4 linked regions of the Homo sapiens genome follow. The protein of the gene in region 2 purifies or fractionates together with the protein of the main gene of each other region. This does not show direct contact. Each region holds a gene or a part of one and is shown on either strand. Other genes may lie near its edges. The genes, in order: ARFGEF1, NPY2R, TTK and ARFGEF3.

The links.
Region 1: the proteins of NPY2R (region 2) and ARFGEF1 purify together in Homo sapiens (affinity purification with mass spectrometry; 2 studies listed by BioGRID and IntAct, with this or other methods). This does not show direct contact.
Region 3: the proteins of NPY2R (region 2) and TTK purify together in Homo sapiens (affinity purification with mass spectrometry; 2 studies listed by BioGRID and IntAct, with this or other methods). This does not show direct contact.
Region 4: the proteins of NPY2R (region 2) and ARFGEF3 purify together in Homo sapiens (affinity purification with mass spectrometry; 2 studies listed by BioGRID and IntAct, with this or other methods). This does not show direct contact.

Annotation. Positions count from the first base shown.
Region 1 is NC_000008.11:67,333,782-67,340,781, reverse strand, and holds part of ARFGEF1 (brefeldin A-inhibited guanine nucleotide-exchange protein 1), read left to right. Parts: intron 1-7,000. UniProt on the Homo sapiens protein: Promotes guanine-nucleotide exchange on ARF1 and ARF3. Promotes the activation of ARF1/ARF3 through replacement of GDP with GTP. Involved in vesicular trafficking.
Region 2 is NC_000004.12:155,204,462-155,211,651, reverse strand, and holds the start of NPY2R (neuropeptide Y receptor type 2), read right to left. Parts: upstream 3,017-7,190; 5' UTR 2,583-3,016; intron 1-2,582. UniProt on the Homo sapiens protein: Receptor for neuropeptide Y and peptide YY. The rank order of affinity of this receptor for pancreatic polypeptides is PYY > NPY > PYY (3-36) > NPY (2-36) > [Ile-31, Gln-34] PP > [Leu-31, Pro-34] NPY > PP, [Pro-34] PYY and NPY free acid.
Region 3 is NC_000006.12:79,999,793-80,007,668, reverse strand, and holds the start of TTK (dual specificity protein kinase TTK), read right to left. Parts: upstream 3,021-7,876; 5' UTR 2,956-3,020; intron 1,840-2,955; exon of another isoform or gene 1,828-1,839; 5' UTR 1,826-1,827; coding exon 1,687-1,825; intron 1,565-1,686; exon of another isoform or gene 1,494-1,564; intron 1-1,493.
Region 4 is NC_000006.12:138,157,217-138,164,954, forward strand, and holds the start of ARFGEF3 (brefeldin A-inhibited guanine nucleotide-exchange protein 3), read left to right. Parts: upstream 1-4,722; 5' UTR 4,723-4,870; coding exon 4,871-4,955; intron 4,956-7,738. UniProt on the Homo sapiens protein: Participates in the regulation of systemic glucose homeostasis, where it negatively regulates insulin granule biogenesis in pancreatic islet beta cells. Also regulates glucagon granule production in pancreatic alpha cells.

The sequences.
Region 1 (7,000 bases), on a different chromosome or scaffold from region 2:
ATGTGACTATCCAGGGAAGGGCTAGGCACCACAGTACTTTATTTACTTGAGATGTATGAGGCATTTTTTCCCACATTTCGTAAAGTTACATTTAGCCTCCAACAAAGCAAAATCTCAGTAATCTCATGGTAGCTAATCCCTGGTGAACTTTGTTTCTTCCCTTGCAGTCTATCTACATCACCACCCAAACATAAATTGATAAGCATAACTCATTTTGTCTTTGCAGAAAGTATATTTTGCAGGAAGATGGTATTCCCACAAATGTATTGTCCTTGAAGACCGTTAGAGACTTATCTTCTCCACTTCACTATTGAGACCTGGGCCAGGCCCGCTCTGGTCTGTTGGTAATCTATGTGGCCATTAAGCAGGATGGGAAAGCAAACTGAAAAGGCCTGATTTAGTCCTCTCGGTTCTATAGATTGTGAGTGGGTAGGTGTTGGATGGTGAAGATACAGAGATCATTTTGTGGGTGGTGTTATAACCCTTCTAAATACCCACCTGTCTGTCTTCATTCTTTCCCCAAATATTTATTGAGCATACAGCTGAAGGGAGATGGACAGTTAACAGGAAAATACATAGTATGTCAGACATTTAATCCTTTTTTGTTTGAAAATCATTGTATTGGCATGTGAGTAGATTTCTGAGTATTGCCATTCAAAATTAATTCAGCTACCTTTTAACATATGGCCAATTATAGATGGATTTTCTGTAAACTATACTCATGAAATTACAGCTTATTGTGTATTCTTAAAACTTTTTTTTTTGTCAAAAAGTATAACTTATGAAACAGCATGTAGATTAGGGGAAATTTTACTTCATTAAAACAATCCATTCTCAAAGACTTCTCAAGGAACTTTTATTTTCACAGAAAGAAAAATAAACCTTTAAAGGGATGCAGAGTTAATGTAAAACGTTTTTCAAATTTTCTTATGTCAGACTTCATTTTGAAGTAAAGAATGGTTAAAAAAGAAAGAATCCCCCCCCCCGCCCCACACTGTTACACTGTTACAACTGATAAGAAGCCCACAGGCCCAGGAACAGCTCCAGGTTGCCCTCTTTTGGTACCTGCCCTACTACAGCTCTCTGCAGAGAGAGGGAGTCTAGGCTGCCCTAGCTTAGCCTGATCCATTCCTGCTCTCGAGAATCCTGACTTAAAAATAGTCTGGCCATCTGCTGGCAGATGAGACAACAGCTGAGCTATTTTTAGTTTCAAAGAATTTAGGATTGTTGTGGGATTGGGCTTGAAGGTAGCATTGTTTATCTGCTAGGGAGGGTGCAGTTGGGACTTATTCCAGTAAGGCCTCTAAGTTTCAGGAGTTTCTTTTATGTTAGGGTTGTGACTAGTTCAGCTTATGCTTTCTGACATCGAATGAAGAGTATCTATGAAGATACTCTGCAAATGTTAGGATGAAAGAGTTCAAGGTTGGAAACTGTCACTGATACACAATAAGAGTGAAAAAGTTGAAGAGCTGACCAGAAGAAGGTTTTAAAGGGAAGGGAGGCATATACTGGCAGTGATAAGGGTGGGTTCCCAGGAGGTATATGGGAAAATAATGGAGACAAAATTGTTAGGGAAGTAATTTTTGCATCAGACAGGGTATGAATTTATATTGTTCATCATATTATAAAGTGATCCTGCTGACTTAGTTTTCTTATATAAGAGTCTATTACCTGTAATTATAGTTTCATCCAGAGATACAATATTGAGACTCAAACTTTTCAGAACTTGCTTCCTTCTGCCCCTTTAATCCCACCCTTATTTTTGTTGGTGGAGTTATAAAAAAGATACGTCAGTGGAGGGGAAATTACTTGAATGCTTTGGGCCCTGGTTTTATGCTACTTTTGGTAACTATTAATTTTCATCACTCTTCACCATTTATGAAAAAATGATTTATCCCCAAACAATATCCTGCCATCAGTGAACACCTTAATTATAATTTAAATCCATTAACAAATCTCCGTTTAAGCCTTCTTTGATATCTAAAGTAAAAGGTGTTTTCAGTAAGCCAGGCTACCTGAATTTTTGAGATGGGTAGAAGAAAAGAGTATAATTAATGACATAACCGAAAGATTGATCCTATTTGTATTTGTTCTTTTCTTTCACATTTCAGATTTGTTTTTAGGACACTTGCTCTAGAATAGTGTTGACTGAAATAAATGTTGCAGAGTACAAGTTCTTAGAGAAGCTCTTTGAAGAAAATAAGTTTGGGTTGAAAAAATAAGTTTGGATTATAGTGTGTAATCTGTTTCCATTTGGGAAATTTATAATGCACATGAACATAGTTAAGATTCTGAAAAGTCCTCCAAGAAAGACACCTGCTCAATTTTGTTTAATGAAGTTCTTCCTGAATTTATGTGATCCTTTTTCATTGTTTGCTAACTCAGTTAACTCCCCTAGGATATGTTGTTCCTTGGAACTTACTTTGGGACACTGGGGAAAGAAAGACAAGTACAATAACCCTAACTACTGGTGAGACCATCTTCTAGAAGAGGTTTGGGGAAATCAGTGCACAAACCTGTGTTTCTCTAAACACAGGTTTGGGGAAAGTAGTAGATGTGTTAATAGTGTGGGAAGGAGAAGAAAGTCCGAAATAAGGAGCAGTAGAAATATCGAGATCAGAGGACTGTTTGCTGACTAGCTTTCTTTCCCACCCCATCTAGGGGCAGGTAACTCATTTGTGTCTCTTGGTAAGGTTTAACTTAGAGAGAAAATTGTGAATGGGAAATAATTTGGGGAAATATTTGTCATAATATTCCTCACATAATGGAGGAAGGAAGATATTTGAAAAGGAAAAATACATGAGTAAGTTATTGTTGCCATTCCGAACTAGGTATATATTTCAATCAGATATTTGTTGAACTCCTCATATGTTCCAGATACTACTTCATTGCTGGGTATACAGCAGTGAACCAAACATGCTTTCATAGAACACACATTCTAGTGGGGTGAGGGTGATAGTAACAACCTTATATCATCAGAAGAAAGAGTTCAGAAGGTTAAAGGGAAAAGGGTGGGAGTACTGATTTAGTTAGAGTTGTCAGGAAAGTCCTATCTGTGAGATGACATTTGAGCAAAGAAGTGACATAAGTGGGGGATTTAGTCTTTCAGATACTTGGATGAAATAGAAACAGGAAATAGCAAGATGGATGTGTGCTTGGTGTGTTTCAGGATGCAAGGAGGCTTGTGTGGCTGGGAGAGAGACAGAGAGAAAGATGGGAGGGGGTGGGCAGATTTGGGATTTTAGTGACAGCATGTTTATGTTTTTAAAGGCTCACTGTGGCCAGAGACCATGGGGACTTAGGCTAAGTTGGTGGTGGTGGAAAGGGTGATAATTGTGTGCATTTGGAATATATTTTGGAATCCACAGGATTTGCTGATGGGTTGGTTAACAGAGGGGATGGCATCCAGTCTTGTAGCCAGAGCTTCAGGGTAGAGGAAGATGGCATTCACCTCAATGGGGGACACTAGGATAGAAAAAGCCTTTGGGAAATAGATTTTTAGACAGTAAAACATTTTCATCCTGCCTTTTATATGTATTTTAGAATGTTTTAATGATAGAATTTTCAGATGATATAATAGGATATTTTCTACTGAGAATAACACAAAATAATTTCAATTTGTTTTGTCTGTTTTTTTTTTTTTTTTTTTTTTTGAGACGGCGTCACGCTCTGTCACACAGGCTGGAGTGCAGTGGCGCGATCCTGGCTCACTGCAAGCTCCGCCTCCCGAGTTCACGCCATTCTCCTGCCTCAGCCTCTCGAGTAGCTAATCTCGTGTAGCGCTACCGCGCCCGGCTGATTTTTTTTGTATTTTTATTAGAGATGGGGTTTCACCGTGTTAGCCAGGATGGTCTCGATCTCCTGACCTTGTGATCCTCCTGCCTTGGCCTCCCAAGGTGCTGGGATTACAGGCGTGAGCCACCGCGCCCGGCCTGCCTTGTCAGGTTTTTTGCAGGGAGGTTTTTTTATCAAAGAAATGAGCCTTTCACTTGTCTGGTTCTTTTCCTGGAATAGGAACTTTGTGGATGTAGTGAAAGATCTCAAGGTGAAGTTGAGATCCTCAACTTAGAGCCTTTAGGTGGGCCCTAAATCCAGTGAATGGTGTCCTTTTAAGGAAGAGGAAGGGACACAGTCACATACAAAGGAAAAAGTCCATGTGAAAATGGAGACGAGATCAGTTACTGCTGCCACATGCTATGGAATGCCAGAAGCCACCAGAAGTAGGAAGAGGCAAGGAGGGATTCTTCCCTTTGGATGTAGCATAGCTCTGCTGTGACCTTGATTTTAGATTTTGGGCCACCAGAACTATGAGAGGAAATTTCTGTTGTTTTAAGCCACCAAATTTATGGTAATTTATTAAGGCAGCCTTAGGAAATGAATGCAAGTTCCCTTTTATCCTAACTTTTCAGACCCATTTTGATTTCTTTATTCAAGTTTCCACTTACAGAGTCTACTGTACATATGTTTACACAATCAGATCCTGTCTTTGGCTCATCTCTGATTGTTTCATGAATCTAGAAAGCAGTTATTCTGAGGCTTTAGTGTGTTATAAGTAGAGGCTCTTGAAAAGCTTCTTAAAAGGTCTGGGCTCAAGTATTTAAGAATATTTAAAAAGTTTTGTGTTCTGCTTTTGATATTTTGTTTTGCTTAGACTTAGACTTGATGTAACTAAATTTGTTTATATAACCTATGTTATCTTTTCATTCAGAAAAGTCTTTGAAAATCTTTAAAATGGCCGGGCGCGGTGGCTCACGCCTGTAATCCCAGCACTTCGGGAGGCCGAGGCAGGTGGATCATGAGGTCAGGCGTTCGAGACCAGCCTGGCCAGCATAGTGAAACTCCGTCTCTACTAAAAATACAAAAAGTTAGCCGGGCGTGGTGGCAGTGGGCGCCTGTAATCCCAGCTATTTAGGAGGCTGAGGCAGGAGAATCGCTTGAACCTGGAAGGCGGAGGTTGCAGTGAGCCAAGATTGTGCTACTGCACTCCAGCCCGAGAGACAGTGCGAGAGTCCGTCTCAAAAAAAAAAAAAGAAAATCTTTAAAATATTTCATATTACCACTGGCGTGTCTTTAGGAAACGCCATGTGAGGCTATTAATTTTTCTTAACAAAAATGTGTACATTGAGACTTCATTTAATCAGCTGTTTAACAATCCTCATCTGTCAGAACTTTGCTAAGAAATAATAAAAATATAAGCAGTCAAAGTACATATTTTGAAGGCCAAGCACTTTATATAGAAGAGAATCTCTATGGCTTTTACTCAGTCTGTATGCTTTTATAATTCCAGTAAGTTTGGTAATTTGATATTTTTTATAAACGAATCCTTCAAATCATTTTCAAAAGTGTAACTACAACAATAAAATTTACTGTGATACGGGGCCCGGCGTGGTGGCTGGCGCCTGTGATCCCAGCACTTTGGGAGGCTGAGGCGGGCAGATCATGAGGTGAGGAGATCGAGACCATCCTGGCTAACACAGTGAAACCCCGTCTCTACTAAAAATACAAAAAATTAGCCAGTCGTAGTGGCGGGCGCCTGTAGTCCTAGCTACTTGGGAGGCTGAGGCAGGAGAATGGTGTGAGCCCGGGAGGCGGAGCTTGCAGTGAGCCGAGATTGCGCCACTGCACTCCAGCCTGGGTGACAGAGTGAGACTCTGTCTCAAAAAAAAAAAAAAAAAAAAAATTTACCGTGATACTCTTAGCTGAAGATAAATAACTACTGTTAACTTTTTGAAAAACAACTTTCTGATAAATGATTTACATACTATAGTATTTACTTTTTTTGAGTGTAATGATTTTTGGTAAATTTACTGAATTATGCAGCCATCAGCATAAATCCAGTTTTAGAACATTTCTATTACCTCAATAAAATCTGTAGTGCCCTTGTTGTCATCCCTAGCTTCTGGCATTCACTAATCTATTTTCTGTCTTTAGAGTTGCCTTTTCTGGACATTTCATGAAATGCAGTTATACACAGGTGGTCGTTAGTGTCTGGTTTCTTTCAGTATGTTTTTGAGGTTCATTCATGAAGTTTGTATCCACACTTCATTTCCTTTTATTGATGAATAGCATTCCATTGTTTAGATATCCTATATTTTGTTTATCCATTTACCAGTTGATGGATATTTGGGTTGAATGAATAATACTGCCATGAATATTTGTGTATAAGTCTTTGTGTGGACGTAAACTGTTATTTGTCCTAGGTAGACAAACTGGGAAGGGAATTGGTGGGCCACTTGATAAATTTATGTTTAACTTTTTAAGAAACTGCTAAATTCTTTTCCAGCCTACATACCCACCAGCAGTGTATGAGGCTTCCCGTTTCTTCAAATTCTCACCAATATTTGTTACTGCCTTTTTATTTTTAGCCATCCTAGTTGTTATGATGAAGTGTTACTTCATTGAAACACTGTTAACTTTTTGAAGTACAGATTAAATATCCTTTATCAGAAATGCTTGGGATCAGAAATGTTTTCAATTTTGTTTTTTTTTTTTTTTTTGGACTTTGGAATATTTGCATATACATAATGAAATATCTTGGGGATGAGATTGAAGTCTAAACACAAAATTTACTAATGTTTCACATCCACCTTATACACAATCCAAAGGTAATTTTATGCACTATTCTTTTTTTTTTTTTTTTTTTTTGAGACGGAGTTTAGCTATTGTTGCTCAGGCTGGAGTGCAGTGGTGCGATCTCAGCTCACTGTAACTTCCGCTTCCCAGGTTCAAGTGATTCTCCTGTCTCAGCCTCCCAAGTAGCTGGGATTACAGGCATGCGCCACCATGCTCAGCTAATTTTGTATTTTTAGTAGAGATGGGGTTTTGCCATGTTGGCCAGGCTGGTTTCAAACTCTGACCTCAGGTGATCCGCTGACCTTGGCCTCCCAAAGTGCTGGGATTACAGGCATGAGCCACTGCACCTGGTCTTATGCACTGTTGTTAATTTTGTGCATGAAACAAAATTTTGACTGTGTTTTGACTGTGACCCATCACGTGAGAT
Region 2 (7,190 bases):
ATAGATTCTGTTTTGCATGATCTGATAATAACATACATGTATGCTTTCATTAATTTGCTCTCCCACCAAAGGATCTGCACCCACAGGTTGACAACACTGGCCTATAGAAGAAAATCCCAACTCCTTAGCCTGACATTCGAGGCTTTTCTTGAACTCATCCCTGCATATCCCTCTGGCCTCATCTCTGCTGACAGCCCAATATATACTGTCCACTTCTGTCATACTGCCTTACTTCCAATTCCAGTAACACCTGAGCCTTTTTCATGCCTCTCTGCCCTCCCCGTTTTAAACTGGGAAGCCTCTCAGTTACCCCAAGCCCCTGTGCTCACTTCTAATGCCGCATGTACCACATGCCACGTTGTGACTGTTTTCCTTCGTTTACCCACCACAGCAATCTCTTTGAAGACAGAACCTAGACCTTCTTCCTCCATTGTTTAATCCCTAGCACACTATATAGCATATTAAAGGTACTCAGCAATTTGTCAGAACAAATATAAAGCTAAAGGAAAGCACAATTATACTGAATAATCAATGTCAGCCAAATGGAAAGTATAATTTTGATCCTTTCCTTTACTGAAGACAACTGCCTATGTAGGGTTCTTCCCTATGACATAACATCCATATGCTTATTTTCTTATTCTTAATCAGATAACTGCTTATACAAAAAAAAAATTGTCCTGAGACCCTGTTAAATTAATTCCTGATTATAACATTTTAAATTGTCAGTATAACCCATAAAGAAAACTTTCTGTTTCAAAGGTTTCTGCTCCCCCAACTCTCTTTCTCCCGCTCCATTTATCTCACTTTTTTTTCTCTTTCCGCATCTTTCCCTCACTCTCTGTCTCTCACCACTCACCCTTCCACAGGAGCCTTACTATACAGAGAGACATGAGAGTTTCCATGTACTCAGGTGTTTGCCGTACTGATATATTCCTGCTCCCTCTGCATAAATTTCACATAGAACATTCCAAGGAGCCCCAGCCTCTTTTCACATGTGCCTCCACTCCTTAGTAATTAGAGAAATCTGAAACAAATCATTCATATCTTGGAGTGTATGTTTGATAGCCCACACCATATCCCCTAGACTAAGAAAGAGACTGGTTTTAGAGTACAGTTACTCAATCCTGACAAGCCATTTAGCCATTTACAGAATTAAAGAGACTCCAAGAGGCTGGAGTTTGGAGGTTATACCTGACTAAATTGAGAGGAAGCATGAGATTGAAGGTTACTAGGAGGAAGAGTATACTTGATTTTTTGATTTGCTTTGCTTTTTCTTCTCAGTCTTGTTTTATAAATTTTGAAGCCCTTTTATTTACAACTTCTCTGTAGGAATGGTTGTTGATCTACAAGCTCTTAGAATATAGACAGTGTTAGCTGTGCTTAAGCAGGTTACTCCCTTCAGCCAGGTCAAAACATTACCCAGAGCAGAAAATGCATCATTTCATGACAGCACTTCTGGAAAAGTGGGAAAGGAAAATGGTACACAGAGGAAGTTGCCATCAAAAGCACACAAAGGAAACAGCAAGCAGACAAGGGAATAACCTTTCTTTGAAATAAGGCAAAATGAGATATTTACATTACTTTAAGACATTTAAAGAGAACTTTTACTGGTACAATTTTCCTGAATAAGGGAATCCTTAGAAACTTTGTCATAGAAACATTTCTTTGCAGAATAGGAAAAGAGTTTCAGGACTTCCCCCAGCAGCCCACCACCCGAGATTCAAATAACCTCAAGTTATTTGAGTCAGAGACCAGTTCATGCTTTGAGGAGAGATGTTTAAATCTGTGGGGGCTTTTTGCAACAATATTGTCACAGGTTGGCCTTAGTAAACCTACACATCTTATCAAGCACAATGTCTTCCAGAACATTTTTCCCAGGGAAAAATATCTCAGAAATCAGTCTCAGAAATCAAAAGCCCTGCATTTGCCTACACTAATTAGTTCTAGGAATGGGGGCAGGGGAGGGGGAAGAAGGGAAGTTTCAAGAATGCTACATACAAGACATGATTGTTTGGCTAATCAGTAGAAAGTTGAAAATATTCACCAAAGGGTGTGGGAAGCCTTTCTTTGGAAACAGCATCTCCATTTCATGTCACTGAATTTTAAATGATGTGTACCTATTGCAAAAAGTCTCAAAGCTTTTAATTTTGCCTCTTTCCCTGCCACCAAAAGCTCCTGCCAGTGGGTGAGCCTTTCTGATGGAAAATGAGCAAACGCTTAAATGAATGTGTCTCCTCTTGAACGGCTTTGGAGAATCCAATAGGACCTTCTGCTTTAGACAAGTGTTTGATTTTTAAAGAGGCAGGAACAATAACAACTTACTGTTCTGGAAAGATAATGACCTATCTCAAAGAAGGGTCAAGGAAATAGTAAATAATCTTCAACAGAAAAGGGAAAATCTAGAGAAAGTAGAAAATGGGGATGGTATTACATCCTCCAAATCGCCACCTCCCGCCTAAAGGAGGAGGAAAAAGTCCATACACTCATGAGGACCTCCTCATGTCCCTCTTCATAGGAACCGAGCGCTCCTCTAGGGATTTTCTTGTTCCCAGGAGGTGATCAGAGTTAGGAATTACACTTACTGACCTGGACCTCGCGTTTTTGCGGAGACGCGGAAACAAGATGTGTGCAGTCCGTCTGTCCGATGATTAGCCAGCCGACCTGGAGAGGGCCCTGGAAGGTGCCCAAAGGCAAGTCCGGTTCCGTCCCCTCCTAGGGTCCAGGACAGCCCGCGCCGCGCGGGCGGGCAGCCGGAGCAGTCAGAGCGGCTGGGCGGTTGGCGCTGCCGGGTCTGCTGCCGACCTCTCAGGCCAAGCGCGCCTGGGCACCGCACTCACTCGCGGGGTGGGCGGGTGAAGGTGGGAGGATCAGAGATGGGAGCGTGGGGAGGGGGGCAAACCCCACCCTTAAACACAAGAAAACAGGTGCAGAGGCTGCGGGCGATGGTCCTGCAGGGGAGGGGACTGGAGGAGAAGTTTTGGTGGCGAGGGAGCAGGAACAGTGTCCAGGGTCTCTCAGCCGCCTCCCGGGCTTGCAAGCCCGCTCAGCCAGACCCTACCCAGAGGGGCGCCCCCTCGCGGGTCCCCAGCCACCACCTGCAGCTGCTGCTGTCACCTACTGTGCCACCCCCAAGTTTGATACTCTGGGCGTTTGCGCCACCCCTACCTCCCTTCCCTTCCACGAATCTCTCCCTTTGCTCTCTACCCCCCAGTTCCGCGAGAGCTGGCCCGGCGAAGACAGACCTCCTGGACTTGAGGCCGACTTCACCAAATCCGCCCCGGGAAAAGGCGAGGGCAAAGGCGGGGCGGACAGACCCAGCTGCGGCTGAGGGACTGCGGTCCCTAGCAAGGCAGGCGAGCGAAGGAGACCTCAGGCTGGCGGGAGGAGGGCCGGGGCTGGAGAATCCCCGCGCCTCGTAGGGGCTGAGAAAATTCCACAACTTCCAATCGAGAGTTGTTTTCTTTTGTGTGTGTAGGAGCAGAGATGGGGAGCTGGATCCGCGCAGAACCCCGGAAAAGCGCCAGCAGGATTGCACCGAGAACAAATCCTCCGCACCCTCGCCCAGGGCTGGGGCGCAGTGCGCTGGTGCTCCTCTAGCTGGGCGGTCCCTGTGCTCCAAACGAGAAGGTAAAGCGAGTTCAGATCCTGCTGCCCATGATCAGCAATTTCCCTAACAGGTGTCTGCAGACAGTTTATAAGTTGAGTAGTGCAGATTCAGACTCGATAGCCAGGAACCTGTGTAGTGAGCTCTGGCTCAGGTTAAAAGCTAGGATAGGGATAGGATAGGAAAGCTATGGGACACGAATAAAACACAATCTCTCTCTCTCTCTCTCCAGATAGCTGACTTCCGAATCCTTCACTCTTTGATCCTGACCCAAGCCACTCGTGCCACTAGGAGCGCATGCCTATGGAATACTCGCTCCTGTCTCCTTGTGGTGAAGCCTTCCGCTAATGCCCAGAGCCTCCCAGGCTGGATTAGTGGGTAGGAGCAAAACAGGATAGTGGAGACAATCAGCAGAGCAGCAGCGTCTATTTCCTCGGGATTCCTCCCAGGAACCCTATTCGAAGCCATTCCTTCTAAAAGTTTGCAGCCAGTCTCTCTTTCCTTTGTTGGTTTTAAGAGGAGGCAGTAGAGCTACCTACATACAAAAACGAAAGCCTGATACTGGTAACCTAAGTCTTTACTTAACCATCCTCTTCGGAGGCTTTGCACACATTACTTTTCCTCTATGCATTGTCATTTCTGAAATAAGGATGGTCATACTGGTGTGCTTGGAATTTCTCTGAAATATACTCCTAAAAGATTAGATTAAGATTAGATTCCGCTACTCTAAAATGAAAAAAAATATTTATCTGTTTAAAAAGGTAATACATATTCTCCAAGATGTTAATTAAAGGCTTCCCTCAAATGGATTGGATTTTCAGTTCCTTCAGGGTTTTCCACACCCTAATAGTATTGCATTTGTAAGGCATTTTTACAGTGTAACCTGAAATTAATCTTCAGTTAATATAGAATTATGCCCACAGGAGTATAGGAATTGTTTATAAAACAAAGCAGCCTGGGCTTTTCAAATACCTAGAAACAAAGGTAAACAGAAATGGAAATATTTAACATGTTCTACACAGTTCCACTTAAAGTCTTTTAGTAGTTGTTTTTGTTTTGTTTTGTTTTGTTTGTTTTTTCCTTAAGAAAGTACTCTTTGCCCAAATATGTGTTATATGTGACAGGTTCCATTCTTCTCAATATATCTGCATTGGTGAAGAATGAACCATATACCAATAAGTTATAACTTTAAAAGAGTAGAAATGGATTTAAACAACGACCACAAAAACAAATCAAATATCCAGCAAAACAGATGAGTGTTGTCTTTTAGAGCAATTGCTTTGGAAAATTCAACTGATTTCACTGACATTGATTGCACAAAACACATTTTATCTTCTTTAAAATTGCCTTTCAGAAGCGTATTAGCAGCCATAACCAACTATTTGCCTCACTCTCTTATAGACGTGTGTTTGTCTTAGTAGATTCATATAGTTCCACAGACATCTAGTCAGCAACCTCAAAAGAGTAAATGGTCTCTATGATTAATGTCCTTTAATAAAGTTCAGAATTGGATGAGAAACTGATAAACTGAAATGAAAGTCACTTCATAGTGTATCATATTATCAAGGAGAGCTGTGGGAATTAGCTTATGACACTTTTGTGCATCACAGTCTAATTCATATCCTTAAATGTGCATACATATCCTGTGTATTGTAGTAACAATGAACCACTCTGATGAATGTCCATAAACCCAGTTGTGACACTGACAGGAGTTTGGGAGTTTGTGGAAGTGGTGGTGAAATATCGATTAATCCAAATTGAAATAGGACAAGATTATTGATGCTTGATTTCTTTTGTATCAAATCATTTAGTTGCTCAGGAAATTCCATTTCTAACCAGAATATGTGCTGTGACTGCTCTTCAAATAGACAACAGACTCAAACTCAGATGCCTGCATGGTTAGGGCCAATGACATAAATGGACCAGCATGCTAGGTTGTAGGAGAGAGTGGAAAATGTTGATTGCCATAACACCTTGAAGAGCACAAAAACACATGCTATAGCTAAATGGGGAGATTGCTTCTCAGAGTACACTCAGCTGGCCTGCAAAAATCTTGATTCAGTATTGTCAGATACGATTTTTAAGAGAAGCAAAATCCATATTGTTAAAAATCTTCTGAATTTTAAATAAACCAAATTAATTTTTAAAAATCCAAAACTCCTAGTGGACAGGCCAAAATAAATAAGAAATCATAGATAGATAGATAGATAGATAGATAGATAGATAGATAGATAGATAGATAGCAGCCTGACTCATCATGGGCCTCCAATATTGTAACATGTTATATTAGTATTTGATGTCTGACAAATCTCCTTAGATATTTAAAACATAGTTCTACTACCATTTCCCCTACCCCATAGACCATTTCTCAATGCACAGAAATACAAAAGGAATACAGCCAAAGATTAGTTGCCAAATAAGTAATTTTCTTTTCCATTTCTGGTTGAATAGATATTCCCAAGGAGACTCTGAAGTAAGAGATTTGTTGAATAACTGAACAATCCAAATATTTTAGATAGCTAGATGAAATTTCAGAAAAGCTCTCCATTAAAAAAGTTCAATAATATCAGTATTGAGGACCACTTGTGATACATACTTATTAGATAAAGAAAATCATGATATAGATTTCCTGCACTGTAATTTCATTTTAACAGCAAAGATGCTTCCCCCACGGTATAAATAATTTCATTGTTATTTTGATTATAAAAATTATAATCATTGTAAAAGTTAGAATAAACAAAAACATCATAGAAGAAATAGGCATTATCTAAAACAATGCAGTCCCACAGAACTTTCTGCAATAATGGAAATGTTTTGTATCTGGGCTGTGCAGTACAGTAGCCACTAGACATATGTGGTTATTGAGCACTTGACGTGTGGCTAGTGCAACTGAAGAACTGAAATTTTAAATTTTATTGAGTTGTAGTTAATTTGAATGTAAAACTAAATATAGTTGACCCTTGAACAGCACAGTTTGAACTGCACAGGTCCACTTAAACTCAGATCTTTTTCACCCAAACACAAATGGAAAATACAGTGTTTGCGGATGTGAAATGGCCTTTACAGAAGGTCCATTTTTCATATATGTGGTTCTGCAGGGCCGACTGCCAGACATGAATATGCAAGGATTTTGGCATATGCAGGGGTCCTGAAACCAATAGCTGCTCTCCCCGCCCCCCGCCCCAGTATACAGAATGACAACTGTAACCACATAGGGAGCGTAAGTGGTGGACTGTATAAAGTCTAAAATTTCATCATCCAGCATGACCATCATCAGCATATTGGTGTAAAATCTCTACTTTTAATTAACTTGTAGCCTGCCTTCTCAACTTTTAAGCTTAAAAATATGTCAAAAACATATTTCCATTTCCTTAATATAATAAATATACATCCTTCCTTTAATGGTTGCCTAGTCATAAACTGTATGATTATATTCTCATGAGTTATTGTTGTTATGGACAAAACTGTGAGAAATGATCTTGGATATATTTGCAGTACCTTTGTCCAGTTATTTCTTTCACATAAATCCAGCAGGGAGTAAGAGCGAGGTATTTTAAAATTTTTTCCTTAAGCCAAGTTCACATTA
Region 3 (7,876 bases), on a different chromosome or scaffold from region 2:
AAAAGTTCATATAAATACAAGTAACTTATTTATCGTGTATTTATCTTTTATGAAGGTATACTTTATCCAAAAGCTATATATTTTGAAGGAAAGAAAACATTTGGAAATAAGTGAGTTTTTTTGTAAGTAGCCTTTAAAAATTGTATGTAGTTTAAGAAAATTTTATGCTGTTGCAGGATAACTATAATTTTAGCATCCTACCTATCCATAGAAAACTAAATCTCTCCCACTGCCACTTGTACTAATTAACTTAGAAAATTCTCCCATCAATGATTTATTCATTAAACCTACTGCTCCAGTCCTAACATAACCTTCTTTACAACCTTAACCATTCAACATTATCTCTGTATACCTCATACTTACTTGTAAAACCAAACCAGCTTTACAAAAAATAAACAAATGAGACAATCATTTTCTTCTCTCCAAGTAACCTAAATTTCTGCTAGAGGCCCTGATAATTTCTTGGTCCAACAAACTCATAGTTACCGTGGTCTAGACCTTTGGAATTTATAGGACCTCTTGTGACTGTCAGGTTTCTCTCTGTGGAACCCCAACCAACAGAAACAGCAAGAATAACCTTCAGACAAAATGTTCACACTGAAATGTACTTTTTACTTTCTTCAGTGTTAGTTTTTTAAAAAGATAACTTGAATGTCAGTCTTCTGTTCAGGATATTTTGGTTATTACTAAGCAATATTAAATTCAGATTTCCAGAGAAGCTATTATTCCTTCTATTAACTTCAGTCACTTTCAACAAAGCCTACATCTTTACTTTTATAAATAAAATTTGTTTCTACTTTCTACTAAAATATAGTGCATGCATAACTTTGCTTTGTCGTTTTAAATTTAATTTGGTCTGACCTTAATTTTCTATTTTTACCTCCTATTGCTTTCCTAAGAAATTAGTCTGTGAAATGTCTAAAAAACACACATTGCCATCTGTGGCTTTGCAGATGCATTCCTCATGCCTGAGTACCCTATTCTTCCTCTAATCAACAAATAAAACATTTGTGTTTTATCATGCTAGTATTCCTATGATGCCCAGCATGCATTACAATGTAGCATAGTGAATATATAAATTCTCATCTAGAAAGAAACTATGGTTTTAAGCATCTTTGAATCTTCCTCAGTACTTAAAATACTCAATTGCCTTGATGTACAACCTTTGTTAGTGACATAATTAAGCACAATTATACTCCATTAAGATTTTGCTTAACACTAAAACTATCATTTTCTAGGTTTTTTCAAAGTGAACAGTCAGCCACCATGATTAGATCACAGGTTCTTCCATTTATTTTCAATTCCTCATCTATTTAAAGGTTAGTATAGATGTAAGAAAATTATCCAAAGGTCACCATTCAAATGACCAACCATTTGAAATACAGTAAAGAATCAGGCTTCTGAGCTAATACTTTTAGAAGAGCTAGAGTATTAAACTCTGGGCATTTTCACCCATTAATCATTGTTCAATAAATGTTTAAGTGCCTACCTACCATGTGCCAGACACCATTCAAAGTTCTGTGGATATAACAGACAAAAACCCTGCCATCATGTAGCCTGCATTCTAATGGAGGAGAAAGACAATAAACACATGAGTAAATTATAAATAAAGTGATTAGTACTATATCTTTACCTTAGAGGATACCCAACAAACAGTTACTAACTTAAAAGAAAAGAAAAACTCACCTGTAGTATCAGCAGAAATTTTATTCAAGCTTAGTTCATCAGTAAGGTCTTCATTTTTAAACTTATTTTTAATGTCTCTCACTTTGTTCATTATGGAATCAATTGTCAATTCTCTGCCACTTAAATCCTCGGATTCCATTTCTAAGAAAAAAACTGAACAGTCATAACTCCTACTTTAACTAGCATCAAAGAAAAAAATGCACTAGCTTTTTAGAACCCAGACGACTAAAGCATTCGTTTTGTGAACACATCTAAATGCAGCTATTATTAGGCTAGTATTAATGGAGGTAAGTGCACAACAACAAGGTACACATCTTTGTAATTTATTCACCAAGGTTTCATAGGCCAAGTATACTTTTTCCCCCAATATAACATCAATGACGTCACACTGTAGAAATCTGCAAATTTAGTGTCACTTAAAAAAAATATGATAGAGTGTTTGCTTGGATTTTGGTAGCGACATACACATAAAGATTGCTTGGATTCTGGTAGTGACATAGACATAAAGAATTCGTTTGGCAATGGGAATAACAATTCCTTTATTCGCCTGCTTTACTTGAGTAAATCTTCCAGTGCAAGTGCTTTCAAAGCAGAATATAAACATGATGGGGCTTTACTGATAATTAGGAAATCCGCAGATTTATTCTTGTGCATATCTAGCAGAATCACGATTTGCTACCTTAATCTAACACTAAGAAACTATTGTACTGGTACTGAGCACTTGCTTATCTGCATGGTGGTGGTGTTTGTTCAATAAAGTGTCTGCAGTCTTATTGTTAATCGTATCTTTGTGACTCTCAAACACCAACTCAGTGTCACTGATAACAATGCTGCCCCGTCTTCAGGTTTAACAATGAAAAAAAGTCATAAAGTTGCAGCAAGGTATCACTCCACCTCTTAAGTCAGGTTTGAAAGATAACTGTCAGATCACGGCCACCCGCTTCTTTCCCAGTTCTAACCCCCAAAACAAGAGAGACTGTCCTTTGGAAAACGATCTTGTGCGCAGGTACCCCACCACCCCTTCTTTCCAGCGTGGGCCACACCCACTTCTTACTTCCTCAACAAAACCTCCTGCATCACCCCACCGGCCAGACCCGCTGAGGCAGTGAGACATCCCCTCCCCCTCCAGCTCGTTTAGCCGCGTCGCATACCTGGCTCCGAGCTGCCCCCACCTCGCCCCACCCCTCACCGACCAGCGCTAACAATGAGCCCCTACACCGGCTGCGGCTGTTCCTCAGTGCGCCGGTGCACCGGTAAGACAGAACTTACCTACAGAAAGCTGCGCTGGGGAAATGAAAAGATGGAACCCAAACTCCTTTCCGCAAACACGTTTGAATTTCCCCGTCGCTATCACTACGGTCTCCTATTGGTCAATGCTAGCCACGTAGAAGCGACAGTCGTGATTGGTTCTTGTGCGACGGGGGCCGCCCCTCCTCCTGCGTCAGGCTAGGCCCGCCCCGGAAGAGCCTGCGGCCGCGACCCCACCCGTGCGGCGCCTGGGTTGGTAGGGTGCTGGCACTTTGCAGGCGTTCCCCGGACGCCCGTGGGCGGGCTTTCCTGGTCTTTCCAGTTTAACCAGGCCGAATTTTTGCCTGGGAGGTAGCCACTCCCGAGCAAACCTACCCAGTGAGAGGAATATAGGGGCAGGGACGGCTGCTCCTAGCATCAGGACCTAAAAGATGCACCTTGGGCCGGCCCTTTACTGACCCCACCGCCACCCTTCTCCTTCGTTTCCCGCGGTTCTCACAGCCTGGCTTAGAGAGGATGTGGCAAGAAAGGATCTTTCACTGAGCTACGTTCAGCCCTGCCGCCAGCTCAAGAATTTCAGTGCTTTTTATCCTTGAGCTTCTGCTTATGCCCTTCCATTATCCTTAAATGACTCCACGCTCTGTCTTCAAGCCAAGACCCTCCCCCTTGTCAAAATTCTGCGCAGAACTCAAGCGCCCATCGTGATTGCCCTGTCTGAAGTCGCCTTATCGGCCCCCCTCCCTCGAAGCCTGCCCCACTTAAGGGCTCAGGTGTCCTCAGGGGTAAAAACATCTCCCTAGTAATAATCTTCGCGGGTGCGAGGCTCTGCCGCTAAGTGGCTTTGTGGTCCAGGGCAACGGTTACTCCTCGTCTGCAAAACTAAAAGGGATGTGTCTGTTGTGCCAGCATTATGACATATATTCTGTGGTAGGACGGGTTGGTTTTGTGTATGTATAGGAAACTAACTGCAGCTGTCACTTGTTAACTCCAAAGCTATCCTTAGAACCCTCACATTCCCAGCTCTGGATAGCCACCCAGCTAGCGTGAGAGCCCTTCTCAATCACTTAATGCATCTTTCTGTGTCAGCTAGCTAGTATTTCTGCTTCAGCAGAGCAAAATGACTTGCTATACCATGGTTGGCTAATCACTTACCTTTGCACCATTGCATCTAATGCTTCTGCCTGGAAAGAGTTTATTATTCCTCCAATTCTCGTTGATCTGTTTGCGGCCTGATCACAAAGCTTGCATTTTCCTTAAAATACTGTTGCTGGATGACCTCACCCTAACACTTCTTTCTGTACTCTCGTTTGGTGGTCTCCTTCAGTCTTCTATTTTTAAATACCATCTATATGTTGATGGCTCCCAAATGTGTATCATTAGCTGAGCTCTCCTCAACTCCATACTCAGATATCCACTGCCTACTTATTAACATCTTCACTTACATGTCTCATACGCATCTTGAACTCAAAATGTCCAAAACCAAGCCCCTGATCTTCCTACCCAAACCTGTTTTTTTTACAAAATCTATAAAAGACAAATTCATTGTCTTAAATTTTTTAGCCCCAAAACCTTTGTGTCATCCCTGATCCCTTATCTAACTCATAAGCAGATTGAGTCAGGGCTGGCACAAGAGATTCCTGGACTCCTACCAGTTCTCCCCACCTCCACTGCCACCACTTCAGTCCAAGGCATCTGCATCACTTAACTGATGTTACCTGCAGTAGCCTCCTGGCTGGTCTCCCTGCTTCTGCCCTTGCCTCACCTCAATTTATTCTCTGACATAGCAAAGTCATCTTAAATCAGATTATGTCACTACTTTGCTCAAAACCCTTCAGTGCTCCCTTTCTAGCTCGGAATAAAATCAAAAGTCCTTGTGATGGTCTGTGACTATTGAGCACTTGAGTATGTCTAGTGCAACTGGGAACTGAATTTTTAAATCAATTAACCTTAATTGATTAATTAAATTTATATTTAAATTTGAAAACTGATATCTAATGGGATTATTTTTAAACTATTTAAAGTAATTTTTTTTGCTTTCTTTTTTCTAAACTTGCATTAGTCATGAATTTATTGGAAGACTTTTAAGTATACTTGGAACAATGTAAGTATATGAACCTACTTTTTCAACTGTAAATTTTGTGAGAACCAAATGCAGATGAAGTATTTCCAGTGAAAGTGTCTGAGTATGAAATGTGATGTACTGTTAAGTATAAAATACACTCTGGATTTTGAAGACTGAATAAGAAAAAGTAATAAACATTGATAATTTTAAAAATATCAATTACAGGTTAAAATGATATTTTTGCTATATTGAGTTAAATAAAATATATTATTAAAATTAATACCACCCCATCACAGAGGAGACTAAGAAGACATGACAACTAAATGCACTGTGATATCATAAACTGGATCCTGAAACAGGAGGATGACATTAATTGAAAAATTAGTAAAATTCAAATAAAGTCTGAGGTTTAGTTAATGAAAATGCACTAATGTTGGTTTCTTGGTTTTGAAAAATGCATCACAGTAATGCGAGATCTTAACAGAAAAACAATGAACAGTATACAGCAATTCACTGTACTATTTAATACACTTGGAATTTTTTTGTAAATTAAAAATTATTCAAAAATAAAAAGTTTATGAAAATTTAATTTCACCTGTTTCTTTTTATACTTTAATATGGCTAGTAGGAAATTGAAAATTACATATATAGCTTACATTGTGTTTCCACTGGACAGCGGTGATCTGTAAAATCCTACAGTTTTACCTATTTGACCTATTTATTTATCTTGTTTATTTTCTGACTCTCCAAACTTTACCCCCACTAGAATGTAAACTCCATAATACAGGAATTTTTGTCTACTTTGTTCATTACAGCATCCTTAGTGCTTAGAACAGTGCCTGGTACATTTGTAGGCACTTAATAAATGTTAGCTAAATACTAATATTTACAACCATTAGAGTATTTAAGAATCCTATTTTATTTAACACATTTGTATACTTCTTGCATCACAGTTTCTCATTTGGCTTTAAATCAGCTGCATCTGACAGTGAATAAACTTGTTCATTTTCAGAGTCAAGCCTTTCACAAAGCAATAAAATTAGCCATAAGATTATGACTTATTGTAAGATGGTAAGTTTCACATTTTTGTCACATAAACAAAAGTTTCGAATGTTTAACTTTGTCATTATCATCATGAAACTTTTTTGCTGATCTTTGACTTCTCTGTCAGCACAGCTGCCTTTTTTATTCCATTATTTATTTACTTATTTATTTAAATCCCCTCCAAGGAATTTTTTTTTCAATTATTGAGGTCATTGTTACACAAGCTCAGTAAGGCCCAAACTTTGATTTTAGAAACTAATTATTATACATGAATTTATTTTGTGCATATACAAAAGTTAAATTTCTGATCAATAATAAATCCAGTTCTTACAGCATGCAATCAGTTGTGTGCTGCTTTATGGTGGTTTATTCTGGATAAAACATTACTAGTGTATGCTGATTTTAGTGCATTTAGGAGTGACGTGAGCCCATAAGAATGTTGAGACCTGTATGAATACTGTCAGGAAAGCTAACTATCACAGAATGGACCAAGCCATACCCAAAAGAAAAGAAAATAATGCCAAGGAGAGGTACCAACGTACCTCATAGATCACAAAGAAAAACAGCAATGACAGCTTAGATTATGTTCTACAAAGGAAAACAGCAGTGACGAGTTAGGACCACTACTTGGACATCAGGTATTATTTAATCATGCAGGCAATAAACTATGCTAACAAACAGCAGAAGAAAAGTAGGATTCTCAGTTCCTATTTTTCTTTTTTCTCCAATATGAAGAATAGCAGTCAGACTGACAATCTTAAAAATAAATACAGGACAGGCTATATAAGAAAGACATTTAAATTCCATCCAAACTCTCTGACACAAATGAAGTGTGTGTGTATGTATGTGTGTGTGTGTGTGTGTGTGAGAGAGAGAGATAGGCTCTGGCTTTGTCACCCAGGCTGGAGTGCAGTGGTGTGATCTTGGTTCACTGCAACTTCTACCTCCTGAGCTCAAGCCATCCTTCCACCTGAGACTCCCAAGTAACTAGTACTACAGGTTCATGCCACAACACCCGACTAATTGTTGTATTTTTTGTAGAGACAGGGTTTTGCCATGTTGCCCAGGCTGGTCTCAAACTCCTGAGCTCAAGCAATGCACCTGCCTCGGCCTCCCAAAGTGCAGGGAAGCATTGTGATGGTCTGTGATTACCATCACACCTGGCCATAATTTTTTTTTAAATGTATCCAGGTTGGGTGCAGTGGCTCATGCCTGTAATCCTAGCACTTTGGGAGGCTGAGGCGGGGCAGATCACCTGAGGTCAGGAGTTCGAGACCAGCCTGACCAACATGGAGAAACCCCGTCTCTACTAAAAATACAAAATTAGCCAGGCGTGCTGGTGCATGCCTGTAATCCCAGCTACACGGAAGGCTGAGGCAGGAGAATCACTTGAAACTGGGAGGCAGAGGTTGTGGTGAGCCAAGATCTCGCCATTGCACTCCAGCCTGGGCAATAAGGGCGAAACTCTGTCTCAAAAAAAAAAAAAAAAAAAATATATATATATATATATATATATATCTCCATACATTTTCAGTCTCTGCTATATAGAGAGAGCCTCACGTAGTTGGTTAATATACCACAATATCCTGAAGAAAATAAGCAGGATATTGAAAAAAAACGTGCAAATATAATCCCAGAAACATTGCTGGCAATCTCTGAAAAGTCATAATAAGTAGAAGCAATGATAGAAAGCCAGAAATGGATGGACAAGTGTTACCTTTTTGGAAAAGGTAGAATTTGGAAGCTATTAATCTCTATAATCTCAATGTAGATTTTAGAATTTTAGACCCCTTCTGGGATCAATTACCGAACTGTTTGGAAGCAAAGATCTCTAGA
Region 4 (7,738 bases), on a different chromosome or scaffold from region 2:
TGAGGAAACAGTAACATTTAAGGTATATGGTCACTTAATCTCCTGGGACCTGCTGCACCAACCTCAACCACTGACTCAGGGTTTAATTGAAGAGAGAAGTAAGTGTCTATGCTTTGTAAACCACTGTATTGTTGGGTCTTTGTTAAAACAACTTAGCCTTTCCATCAAATAACATGTACATGTTGCATCGTACTGAAGTTATTGATTGTTACGAGGAAAGTACTCATTAAATTATATGAACTCAGGAACAGGATTCATATTTTCCTATTTGAAAAGCAATCTCATTTGGCATTTTGAAGATGATATTTCACCAGAAGAATCTGCATATAGGACTAATTTTTTTGACATTTTAAACTAACTGAATTTGGATCTACAGGGAAAAAGTAACAATATATTTCAAGATGTTTAATATATCCAACACTAACCAATACATTTTAAGTAATCACTGTGGTTACTATGTGTGCACAATTTTGTAACACATAAAGAGAAAATTAATGAAGACATTTTGAATAGAAAAATGATATTAGTTATATTACGTCTCTGTTATAAACTTTAATAATTTCAAAAAGAGAAATTTGAAATATTGAGGAAAAAATTGATAAAAGATCTGTTTTCCAAAATCCTGAATCCATATTAAAGTTGATACTCAAAGAAGAAAGCTAATCTCTAATACTTTAATACATTGAAGAATGATTATAAGTTTATAGCCATTTTAGATTAAGATTAAAGAAGACTTTCCATTGCTAAACAGAGTTCACTGTTGTTATTAATAGCATTCACAGCAACTTATTTGTGTGAGCCAGAATTTTTAAGCAACAAAACTAAAAACATTGGAAAGAAATAGGCATCACAGAGCAAACCACTGTGATTGTCCTCATGCCCGCAACCCAGAATGAATTTAGGAACAGGCAAGTATGCCTGCTGCAGTGAATGAAATCATGCTTAGTAGTAACTATTCTAGTTAACAGTATGTACTGTTTTATACCTAAAACTGTTGTTTCAGTTTTTTAACATATCTATACATGTATGTAAACACTGGATGATAATGTAAAGCATATTTTCTACTGTGAGTTATAGAAAAAAAGTAGAAAGGTGTTTACTTTCCTTCATAGCCATCCACTGGGTTGTTTATCCGTGTGATTTCACCAGCTCTTAATCCACTGCAACCAGGCTGCAGTCATCATTTCTCCCGGGTCTGGCTTCCACGGGATCCTAACTCTCTCACATTCATTACATCATTTTCTGTGTTTATCTTTGTCCTTTCTCTGGATGTTGACCTTGTTGCCTGGATACTACTTTTATTTCATTTTTGTGCCACTTTTTTTTTTAGAATAACACTTCTGATTATAAAAGTAAAAATATTTAATGAAAAATAAACTCACCTATAAGCCCATCAAAGATAATCACTTAATATTTTGTATGTACTTTTGATAGATATGTATGTACATATATGCATGTATTTTTGAACTTATATATACATCTACATCAAATATTTAAATAAAATTGGAATCATGTAGTATACAAAAGTACATAGCATTTTACAATTTGCTTACTTAAGTATATAGTATAAGCCACTTTTCTTTTTTTTTTTCTTTCTCTGTCTTTTTTTTTTTTTTTTTTTTTTTTTTTTTTTTTTTGAGACAGTGTCTTGCTCTGTCGCCCAGGCTGGAGCGCAGTGGCGAGATCTCAGCTCACTGCAACCTCTGCCTCAGGGTTCAAGCACTTCTTGTGCCTCAGCCTCTTGAGTAGCTGGGATTACAGGCATGTGCCACCACACCCGGCTAATTTTTGTATTTTTAGTAGAGGCAGGGGGGTTCTCACCATGTTGGCCAGGCTGGTCTCCAACTCCTGACCTCAGGCGATCCACCTGCCTTGGCATCTCAAAGTGCTGGGATTACAGGTGTGAGCCACTGCCCCCGACACCACTTTTCATATTATTCAATATTTCTCTCCCACATTATTCTTTTTAAATTAAAAACAATTTTTTTTTTTAGTAGAGATGAGGTCTTGCCATGTTGCCCAGGCTGCTCTCAAACTCCTCGGCTGAACCAATCTGCCTGCCTCAGCCTCCGAAAGTGCTGGGATTACAGGCATGAGCCAACATGCCTAGTCCCCCACATTATTCTCAAAGGCTATATAATATGATGCTTTATGAATATATCATGGGTTATCTATCCATATCCTTGTTGCATATTTAGTTTTCTCTTTTTTTAGAATTGAAAGACACACTGAAATGCTTGTAGAAAGATCCTTATCCATTTCCATAATCACTTTCTTAGGATGAATTCCCAGAAGTGGAATTGTTAGGTCAAAGCTATACCTATGCCACATACACATCCAGGCTCCCTCCCTCCAGGAATGTAGTACCAAGTTACACTCTGACCAGCACCCAAGACATGAGAGGACCTTGTTGTTCAGCTCCTTCAATAACATTTAAAAAATCTCTCAGTCAATTTGATTAATAGAAAATAGCATCTTATTTAAAAGTTTGTTCTCTTTATTAGGCACTTGAACATTTTTTATAAGTTTATGGGGTCATATGTATTCTCTCCTCTGTAAACTGACTTTATATATATTGGCTTTTTTAAAAAAGAAGGAGCATTTGTTTTTTAATTCTTTGTTAAAGCTTTTTTTTTTTAACAAAGCTATTCAAACTTTATATGTCTGACATTAATATAAACATTTTCCTAGTTTGCAGCTTAAACGAAATTGTTTTTAATTGTAAAACTAGTAAATACTTTAAAATAGATTCAAAAATATAAATCCACATATAATTAAGATTTAGAGGTATCATCTTTTCTTCCTTCAATCCATCCCTCAGAGTATCATTTGCTTTTTAATTTTGTATGAAACTTTTGGCATAAAGGTCTTAAATATTCAAATAGTCAAATCTATTGACCTTTTTTCCTTCAGTTTCTGCCTTAGTTTGTTAGAAATAATCTTAATGCATTAAGATAAGTATATTCACTTATGCTTTCTTCTAAACTTTTCATCATTTAATTCTTAAATTTAATTTTTAATACATTTGTAATTTATTTTGCTACACGATATAAAGTTGTGATCTATATATTTTTCCAAATAGTTAACAATTTTCTTTAACCCAAGTACATTATCTGCTGCGGCGTTTTTACTTTTTTTTTTTTAAACCTTTCTTTAAATGATGGCTTCACTGGGCGTGAGGGTAGCGGTAGAAGCATCCTTGGGGGCTGGGACTTTGTAGGTTTTGCCTCCTCAGTACCAAGAGCGCCGAAGGAGTAGTCTGACATCCCCATGTGTTGGACACCCTCCAATGGCAGTCCCTCCCCTGGCTGACCCCCTACACCTCGGATTTCGGACTGCTCCTCTCAGCCTCCTCCCTGGGCCCTTGCTCCTGTACCCATGATTTGAGAATTAGGGGGGCCGTCACTCCCTCTCTTGTGCAACCTTTGTCAAACTCGAGGCATCAACAACTCCTATATTTACCACCCTTCAAATACTGGCATCCCTCCCAGAGCTCTATCCTGAGTTCCTGTCCATAAAAAAAATCTACAAGTATCTCATTATCATTTCAATCTGAACATGTTCAAAACTGAACTCATATATCCCCCCTAATCCAAACCCTTTTTATCTTCTCTTCTTTAAAGAATGGGGCCACCATCCTCCCAATTTCCTAAACAAGTAACCTGGAAGCCATCCCATATACACCGTCTCTCCCCTATTGTGTCATTAAATCCTATTGTTTCTACCCTTCAATATCTCTTGACATACTTTCCTTTATTCCCCTTCTACCCACCCTTGGCCTAATTGGTTTCTAGATTCCTGCAGAACCTTTGTTCTCCCAGCTGCCAGTCTGCCCCTCTGCAGTCCATCATCCTCACTTCCACCACAGGAACATTTTCAAAGAAAAAGGAAACACGGGGTGCCCTGTCACACTGCCTTCCCCACCGCCCGCGTGAGTCTCCTGGGGCTCCCCCTTTTCACCCCAATGAGAAGCCCTCTGCTGCGGCGGCCCTTGTGCACCACATTTTTCACAGGGCAGCAATTCAGCGCAAGAGAGGATGGGAAGGGGAGGAGATAGGGGTTTTTAGAAGGGGCTTTGGATTCAGGACGTGTTTGGAGTCTAACTCTTGTTGGTCTGGGAAGTAACCCAGCCTCTCTGGGCCTGGTTTCCTTGGGCATATCAAGCTCTACCCCAGCCCCACCGCAGCCCACCGCCCGCCGCGTGTTGAAAGCTTGACTGGAGTTTCCCTGCAGGCAGGGGCACAGTGTGTGCAACGCTGCATCGCCCGAGCCTGGCACAGGGAGTGGCCCAAAAAAGCTGTTAGTGACTGAACGCAAGAATTTTCCGGTTAGCAGACGACGGGATGCAGCGGGCGCGGCGCCTGCACCACGCTGGGGGTCCCGGTGTCCGGGCTGGGCCGCTCCGACTCCGCCCGCGGCCACCGTCGGCTCAGGGGGTGCGAAGACCGCGGCGAGGCCCCTCCCCGCCTGCCTCCCGCCGCCCGCCGCGGACCAGGCGCTCCCTCCCGGCGGCTGGCGAGCCAGCTCCGGACATCCGTCCCCACCTTTCCGCTAAGCGCGGCGCCCGCGGGGCCTGCCTCGGCGGTCAGGTCAGCGGCCTCCAGCCTCACTCTCCGGCCCCAGCCCGCAGCCGCCGCCGAGCGGAGCGCACCTGACCCAGGCGGGCGGGGCGGGGCGGCGGGCGGGGCGCGGGGCTGACGTGGCCCGCGGCATGGAGCGGGCGTGATTCATCAGCATCCGCGCCGGGGCGGCATGGGGGCGCGCGCGGCGGCCGCCTAGGCGCCCAGGGCCAGGCAGCGGCGGCTTCCCCGGCCCGGCTCGCCCGCGCTTCTCTCCCTGTGGGCGGCGGCCCGGCGCCTGGAAGGTCAAGATGGAAGAAATCCTGAGGAAGCTGCAGAAGGAGGCGTCCGGGAGCAAGTACAAAGCCATCAAGGAGAGCTGCACCTGGGCCCTGGGTAAGCGTCCGGCACCTGCTCGCCGCGGCGGGAGGGCCGCGCGGCCGGGGCTGAACCCGCGCCTCCGCGCGTGGGGCTTTCGCGGAGCGTCGGTCATGGGTGCCGTTCTGGCGATTGCGAGAGTCGCCTCGGGAAATTGATGTGGGATTTGAGAGTCTTGGCTCGGGCGTGGACATCAGCCGCCTCCCCTCCGGTCTCTTTCACTCTCCGAAACCTTCCTCGGGAACCGCTGTCCTCCCTGCCTGGCGGCCCCCTTCTCCTGGTCCCGGCGCTGGGGACGATGCTTCCCCATCGCCGAGTTAGGCAGGACCCGGAGCCGGTGCGAATCCTGGGGCCTGACAGCGAAGCGCCTCTGGGGAAAAGGGAAGTTAAACCAACAACCCCGATGTCGAATCCTTGGCGAGTGGAACCAGGAAGGAAAGGCTTGTTTAATTTGATTTTCCTGATAGAGGTCAGCTTGCTTAGTGTTAGCTTTCCTGGTTATTGCACATGAAAAATAACATACGGGCGGGGATCATGTTACCTCTGCAATTCTGTTGTGGTCTGCCCTTCAGACAGGTGGGATTTTAGGGCTGTGAGCTGTGCTAGCGTTGAAGTAAGTTCCAGGGAGCAAATTTGTGTTTCTCATCAGACTCAGGTTGCAGAACTCAGCAGCGGAAAAAAACGGAAAGACATTTCAGTTAGGCGGGGTTTGGGCAATCAAAATGGTCAGGATGGTAATGCAAATAGATCAGAAGCATACTTTGGGTGATGGTGATGCTTTTTAGAAAGGAAAGGCCAAGAAGAAGCCAGCGCAGCTAGCTCTATGGGCTCCTCTCTCTGCCTTGCTGGAGCCTGATGTGATGCCTCAGTTGCCACTCAATTGAAAAATGAAATTGACTCCCTTTCCCTTGCAACCAAGAACCATCACTGTCTGTCATGACACTGTGTGTGCTTTGATGCAGCCTGAGATAGAGAAGAGCCTTTAGCAGGTTTTCCACTAAATGTAAAATTTTGAGAGTGGTTTAGGTGACTCTTAATATGTAGATGGTCTTAATTCACATATGTTTGGGTGTGTGTACAGGTAATTATAGCAGCATCTTTTTTTAAACCTGTGCCTATCATCACAAAATTGTCTAGAATATTGTCTAGGAAGTTTGTCTTGTAGGTAGAACCAGCACTTGACCATTCTAGCTTACTGTTAAAGAAAAATGGACCAGAAATCTGAGAGAACAGCAAGGCTCTTAAAGCCACAGTACTATTTTTGCCGTTGCCATTGTCATTCAGCAGCGTGATTCGAAGCTAGATTCCAAAATGCCTCTAATGAAGGGTCACAGATGGCTGGGTAACATGATAAAGCAGGGCCCAATTGTGCTTTAAACATGCCATTCCTAGTATTCGTTATTATTTTGCTGCAAATTAAGCAGATTTAGATAAACAGGGAGGAGGAGATTAATCTAGTATTTTAATAAGTTTAAATACTGACATCAACATCTTATTAAGTGAAACCACAACGTTGCTGAGTTTAGGTCCTTTAAAGCCACTGGGGAGGCTGAGCATTGAGGCAGGTAAATTTTTCGAGTCAAATCTGAAAGAAACCAGCCTGAGTGGATGTACTTCCTTTCCCAGTGATTGTTCTGTCATTAGCAAGACAAGACAGAAGTGCATGAAATAGTTAAATAATAGTGCAGGGCATTCATTGTGCAGTTGGATTGGGCAAACCAGGAAAACAAGTCAAAGAAGGGAGGATAAATGTGTTGTCCATGGATTGGGGGAGAATTGGTGTGAGCTGGTGGGGCTTTTGAAGTAGATTTCACTTGAAGAATGGGGAAGCTATGGGTTCCTTCTTTCCGTCGCTTCTTTATTTAGGAAACATTTATTAAGACCTCCCTGGTAATGAGCAATGGGATATATGGATGAATAAAATGTTCCCTGTAAGGAATTTGTTAGAAGGGCATGCTGGAGACATGAACAAAGGCCTATAGGGATAGGTTTTCCTGTTGCCTTTCCCACTCCAGTCCATTTCCACTGCCCGTCACTGTTTAGATTACAAAACACCTGTCACTCTTCAACCCCCCAATTTATTTCTAGATTAATGTGTAAATTCCTCAGAATGCTCTTCAGAATCTAGCCCCAGCCTCTGTTCTTGTCACTCCCCAACCAAGATTCAACAATCTAGTGGCAGTCAGCTGCAGCACTTTGTTGAACATGCTGTGTGGCACACTTCTCTCTTTGCCTTTGCTCTTGCTAGTCCTTCTGTAGGGAATTCCCTTTTCAGACTTGGCAAGGTCCATCTTGTTTAGGAAACATTCCCTGAGCTCCTCAATAGGATAAGTTGTTTGTCTGGGTTCAGATCCTTGCCTTGATGACTCTCTTAGAGTACCTACTATTTTGGATAATAGTTGATTGTGTGCACAGGTAGGCTCTTACGGGCAGTGTAATTGACAAATATGTTGGGTGCAAGAGACAAAAAAGCTAGTTTAAGCTGAGCTATACAAAACGGGATTTATTTACTCCTTTAACTAAAATACCCCTTACAAGAATAGCTGTGATTTAGGAATTAGACACTGTTTCAGGGATCTTGTCCTGCTCTTTGTGGGTTGACTGACATGCTCTGCGTGGGTCTCCACAGTTTTGGGCTCATGAATCAACACATTTAGACCATCTCATGAAAAGAGGCAACAATAAACTTAGACCATCTCAGGAAAACACGTCTCATCCCCCACTTAGACCATCATGTGATGGGGAGGTCAACCGCTACTTAGGTCATCATGGGAAAGGGGGGTTACCTCTCACGTAGACCC